2 separate regions of the Homo sapiens genome follow, and region 1 is linked to region 2. The links come from fine-mapping of genetic effects on gene expression. A gene starts in region 2. The other region holds a variant in brackets. All regions are shown on one strand. Distances are from middle to middle.

Region 1 (2,911 bases), 160 kb after region 2:
TCTCCCATCACTCTGCCTCCCCCACCACCCTGCCCCAAGGGGACCATGATTCTCAATTTTGTGCTTTCAGTTCAGCTTTTTCTTTTATAGTTTTGTCAAATACATATGCATCCCTAAGCAATATTCGGTAAAATTTTGCTTCTGTGGGGGCTTTGTAAAAATGATATCATATTGTACACAGTTTAAAGAGACAGGTGCTTTTTAAACTCAGCATCATATTTCTAAGATTTTTCCATGTTGTTTCATGCAGCTGTGGTTCATTAATTCTCACTAGACAAAGTTTTTGAGGTGAGTCCACAGGTACGCTGCCTCTGAGGGTACTGCTGATGGGAACAAGCTTTCTGAACAGGATTGGAAGCCACACGCCACTCCCCCAGCACCACCCGCCCTGCCTTGCCACCACTGCTGGTGCTGTTGATGGTGCCGCTGTCATACTGACAGAAGCATCGCCAGGAGCTGGAGAAATGGCTTCTCCTTTCTTGCACCTTCCATTATCCCACTAATGTCTCCCATTGGTAGAACCTACCAAATGTCAGTGCACAGGTATCTAGGAAATGTGGTTAGCAGCTTTCCAAAAGCCCTAGCAGTAAAGAAGAGTTGAGTGTGGGTAAGTAGAGCTGAGAGCCAACCTACATTATCCAGCTCACTCACTGATGTCATTCCCAGGAATTCTTTTTTTTTTTTTTCGAGACGGAGTCTCGCTCTGTCGCCTGGGCTGGAGTGCAGTGGCGCAATCTTGGCTCACTGCAAGCTCCGCCTTCCGGGTTCACGCCATTCTCCTGCCTCAGCCTCCTGAGTAGCTGGGACTACAGGTGCCCGCCACCACGCCCGGCTAATTTTTTCTATTTTTAGTAGAGATGGGGTTTCACCGTGTTAGCCAGGATGGTCTTGACCCCTGACCTCATGATCCGCCCGCCTCAGCCTCCTAAAGTGCTGGGATTACGGGCGTGATCCACGGCACCTGGCCATTCCCAGGAATTCTTGAAGGCTGTTGTTTATTTCATGCTTAGGGAACATTGCAACTCTTTGATTGGAAGAGTTATGTCGCTGAATGCCATGAAATAGCATGAACATTAAGTGGAAACAGTAGGGAAAGGTGGCTATATGCCTCTTTGTCTTTCCTAATACAGAAAATGAAAGGAGCAAATCCTGGCTCTTCCCTCATTGGGCCATGGAGAAATGGTGGGGCTGATTGGAAGGTTACAGCTGTGAAGTCTCCAGTTTTTCACTTTGAAAGAACATAGCCCTGTCTGCCAGCAAAT[G/A]TTTACCAAGCACTTAGATATCTGATGCAGAGAAAACAGTAATGCTTGAAAAGTCAAAGATCTGGTCCATACCTTCAAGGAGATTACAATCTAATTGAAGAGATAAGATATTCACTCATGGAACAAACAGAGAACAAGGAATTCAGTGGTAATAGACACCAAAGATGGTGAGCATGTGGCACACATACCATAACTCTCCATTCCCAGACCCATAGCAGGCATTACTAATCAATCAGATCTTTTTTCTTTCTTGATGAATCTGGATTCAATCACAGAATTCTTTAACACAGTGATTCAGACATTTACTCTTAATTTCTCAAAATTGATAGATGTAGCCCACTATATATAGGTTCAGTAATTTTCGTTAACTAATTGGTCTAATCAATGAAAATTACTAACAGCCTACTATGCACCATTCGCAGACATAGGCACAGTGGTAATTACCACAGGAAGACTTGTGCTTGTGGCTCAGAGTGTAGGCAGAGAATCAAAGAAGCAAACAGAAAATGACAGTGCAGTGGTTTAAGTGCTAATATGTGGAAAACAGAGGGTTCTGTGAATGCACAGAGGAGGGACCCAACCCAGATTTGGGAATCAGGGAGGACTCTAGGCTGATACCTGAAGGATAAACAAAAGTTAACGAAATAAAAGGGAAAGTGTATTCTTCAGGAAGCGTTCAGTTGCAATTGACAGAAACCTAGCTCAAGTTGCTTTAAACAAACAGAGAAATACACATGTGTTCATGTAACTGAAATACATTGGCTCACGTAACTGGAAAGTCCCAGAGTTGTTTGCTTCAGGAATGGCTGGATCTAGGCGCTTGAGTGATGTCATTAGGAATCCATCTCTATCTCTTGAGTCTGCATGCCTCTCTGCAGCTTCATTTCAATCAGGGTACACATTCATGGTGGCAAAGACATTCATGGTGGCAAAGACATTCCTGTGCAGTTCCAGGCTGACATCCTGTCTGCTTAAAACCTCCATAGAAAGGCACCTCACAATAGTGCCAGCAAAAGTCCTGAGGTTGACTCTGCTTTGCCCAGGCTTGATTCTGTTCGACCCCATAGCTTGGTCATACCCACCCACAGTATGCGGATAGAGCAGACTCCCAAGGAGACTGAGGTGCTTTTACCAGGAAAAGAGGGAACTATGCCAGGCCAGGAAAAGGGAGATGAAAAAACTTGATCTCTGCTTGGAAGAAGGAAGCAAAGGAGGGTACCAGGCAGAGAAGCTGTGATGCATCCGAGGAGAAGTTCAGGATGCGATGTGCAGCATCTGAGTGTGGAGTAGAGGGATGAATCTGGAAGGCGGCAGGAGGCAGGTCAGATGAGGCCTCTTAACCACGTTAGGGATCAGCCTTTATCCCAAGCACAGTGAGAAGCCATTTCAGGGCTTTAAGAAGGAGACTGAAGATTCTAAATCGCCCTCACTTTTGATGAGTTAACAGCATTATGGGAAGTGGGGAGAGAAGGAAGAGGCATTAATTTTCAAGATCAGTCCTTAAAGTAACCCCGTCAAAGCAAACCATGTAATTTAGCAAATCACAGTTTCCATTGAAACTTGTTCAGGTAATACGTGCTCCTCCAATTAGTATAACAGCCCAGAGATGCTTTTCCAGGACAAGATGGCCTTTGGGTCATCATGTTCTT
Region 2 (2,911 bases):
TAACTTCATGAAATCTTAAGTCTCTGAAAGGGCAGCAATGTGTCCGCTTGTTGGCTACTGAATATCCCCCACCCAGATCTCCCAGCACTTAACAATGTCCTGGTACCCACTGGTACCTAAAAAATACTGATAAAAGAAAGGCAAGAAGCGTAAAAGTAAAAAGCCAGGGCTTCTGAGTCAGAGGCATAAGGAGCTGAGGGCCTGGACCGGCCACTTAGTAACCGTGTAACCTTGGGCAAGTTACTTCTCTCTGAGTGTCACTTTCTCATCTGAGGACAAAGTTTATGGTGCTGGCGCACAATGATGTTTAATGAAAAAATAGGCAATTTAATGAAATCCAACATTTATTGGGCACTATGTGCCAGGCACACATTTGAACATAATACGTGACACACATACCTCCTCTAATGGTCACAACATCCCTATGACATGGATACTGCTACTATGTCTCCCATTTTACAGGTGAGAAAACCGAGGCTGAGAGGCTAAATAACTTGTTGAAAGGCTACACAAGCAGCAGAGTTAGTATTTCAACCCAGGGAGCCTGGCTCCAGTGGGGCAAGTACTTGTCATTACATGTTTCTTAAAACTAATAAATGGAAAGATAATGATCGAAAATTGAAACGAGTCAAATGGGGAAACCAAGGCTCAGGGAAGTTAAACATGTTCAACATTGAGCAATAATGACAGATCCCAGATTTGAACCAGGCAGAACGGCCTCAGGACAAAAGCTTGACGCTGCATGGCCACGTGGTTTCTTAAGACTTAACGAATGAAAAAAGGGATGAAAGAATAACATTTCCGAAAGGCCGGACACCGCAGAAGGCACAGAAGGAGAAACTGAGGGAAATCCAGCTTCGGAGCGCAGGGGAGTCCCTCACCCGCCCAGGCCCCAGAGCCTCGGGGCCGCCCACGCCGGGATCCCGGCCCACCTTACCAGCGCGGCGACAGCGGAGGAGCGCCCGGGCCTCCTGCACCGTCCGCCGTCTGCCAAGCCGCGCCTCCAGCGCCGGGTGCCGGTAGCCCTTGGGGAAGCGGTGCTTGATCACCGCCGCGCGGCCCTGGAAGCGGCCACGGAACACGCGCGCCTCGGCACCCTGCTTCACCAGCTCCAGGCCGCTCAAGAAGCGGCTGCTCCGCTCCCGGGCTGCGGCCAGAGCCTCAGCCTCCGGGGCGGGCTCCTCGCCATCGGCCGGCGTAGTAGCTCTGGCCGCCGCCATGACTGCTCGGCGCAACAGCTCCAACCGATCAGCTGTCTCTGAAAACTGTCGCGATGCTTCGGCTCGCTTCGGAAATCCTGGGACTTCTTCGGCAATCCTGGGACTTCTTCGGCTACCCGAATGCGTCCACCCCGGACACTTCCGGCCTGTAAGTGGTTACGCCTCCCAACTTTTCGGCTCTCTGAAGCCTGAGGTTCCCTGCAGGAAGGGCTCTTGTGGCCCCGCCTTCCGCCTCTTCGGCTATCTCCGTACACGTTCGGCAACGCTCAGTAAGTGGCTCTTCCCGACTCCTTGGCTCTCCGGAAATCTTCGGTGACTCTCGCAGCCGGCTTTGGGGGCCCACCTCTCAGTTGGTCGTCTCTTTCCGGAAAACTTCGGCGCCTCTCGAGAAAAACGTCGGACGCGCTTTGCTCTCTTCAGAAGTCTCTTCCGGGACAGCTGTACCCTCTAGTAGTCTCTTTTTGGAACTCCTCTTCCCCTGACTCCTACATTCCCCCCAAAATGTGCTCATACAAGTCAGAGTCGGAAGGGTCAGACAATGAACCATGTTTCCGACATCCTCTTAAGTGCTAGGATAACTACCATTTAGTGCATTCAGAAGAAATAAGGTTAAATGATGAAAATCCTTACAGAAAAGAAAATTGAGACTCAGAGCTGGCAGAGGGGGTGGTAAGATGGGGTGGGGAGTGGGGGCTGGGGAATCCGGGAAAGTCTTCCGGAGACAGAACCTAAACTGAATTGGGAATAATTAAACTTTTTCAGTTTCTACCTGTTTCATTACAAAGCTTATAATAACACAGGCTGTAGCAAATTCTTACAATACGGAACTTTGCACACGCACACATAAATAAATAAACTACCTATCCCCCTTGTGACACTGCTGGCCGTTAGTTTCTTTCCAGAATTTTCTTTCATTCAGTGTGCACACTCACACATCGTTGTGGCGTTTTTTCCAACATAAATGACATCATACTGTGGGTTCTTTGGCAACTTGCTTTTCATTTTCCTAAACAATTTATCTCAGACTATATTCCATATCAATACATACAGAGCTACCACGTCCTTCTACCTGGTCAGGCAGTTTCTTGTTGCTAAACAGTTGTTTCCAGTTTGTTGTTTCTCAGGAAAACACTTTACTTACTATTGCCAGTTTATTATAAAAGATAGTATAAAAGATAAAAATGAACAGCCAGATGAAGACGTACATAAGGAAAAGTAAAAATTGTACGTGTTTATCGTAAGTAACATGTTTTGAAATATGTATACATTGTGGAATGGCTAAATCCAGCTAGTTAACGTTACCTAACATACTGATCATTTCGGGGGTGAGGACACTTAAAATCTATTATCTTAGCATTTTTCAAGAATACAACCCATTGTTATTATCTATAGTCACCATGTCGTGCAATAGATTTCATGAATGTTTCCTCCTATCTAACTGAAATTTTGTATCCTTTGACCAACTTCTCAAAATCCTCCCTATCTCCCTCCCCCTACCCCACCGCCTGGTAACCACCATTCTACTCTGCTTGCATGAGTTCAACTTTTCTTACCTTCCTCATATAAGTGAGATCATGGGATATTTGTCTTTCTGTGCCTAGCTTATTTCATTTAACACAATATCCTCCTGTTCCATCCATGTTGCTGTAAATGACAGCATTCCATTCTTTTTAAAGGCTGAATAGTATCCC

Alleles and levels. Alleles are on the strand shown, and positions count from the first base shown. SD is a standard deviation of normalised expression in the study named.
For the expression in pancreas of the gene that starts at base 1,105 in region 2, G is the high allele of the variant in region 1 and A is the other (moderate effect, 0.67 SD a copy in GTEx).

The links.
Region 1: its variant is fine-mapped to the expression of TP53RK-DT in pancreas (GTEx, PIP 0.96).

What each region holds. Positions count from the first base shown.
Region 1 is chr20:46,847,386-46,850,296 of GRCh38, forward strand. No RefSeq gene overlaps it. Among named protein-coding and RNA genes, the nearest start is that of EYA2, 46 kb to the right of the region's middle. The variant G/A (reference allele first, on the strand shown) is at 1,263.
Region 2 is chr20:46,688,195-46,691,105 of GRCh38, forward strand. TP53RK-DT (TP53RK divergent transcript) reads left to right here and starts at 1,105. Exons shown (of 1, transcript NR_186399.1): 1 at 1,105-2,095. TP53RK (TP53 regulating kinase) reads right to left here and starts at 1,250. Exons shown (of 2, transcript NM_033550.4): 1 at 938-1,250. The coding sequence starts at 1,220. RefSeq lists a silencer at 829-878 and an enhancer at 1,109-1,698.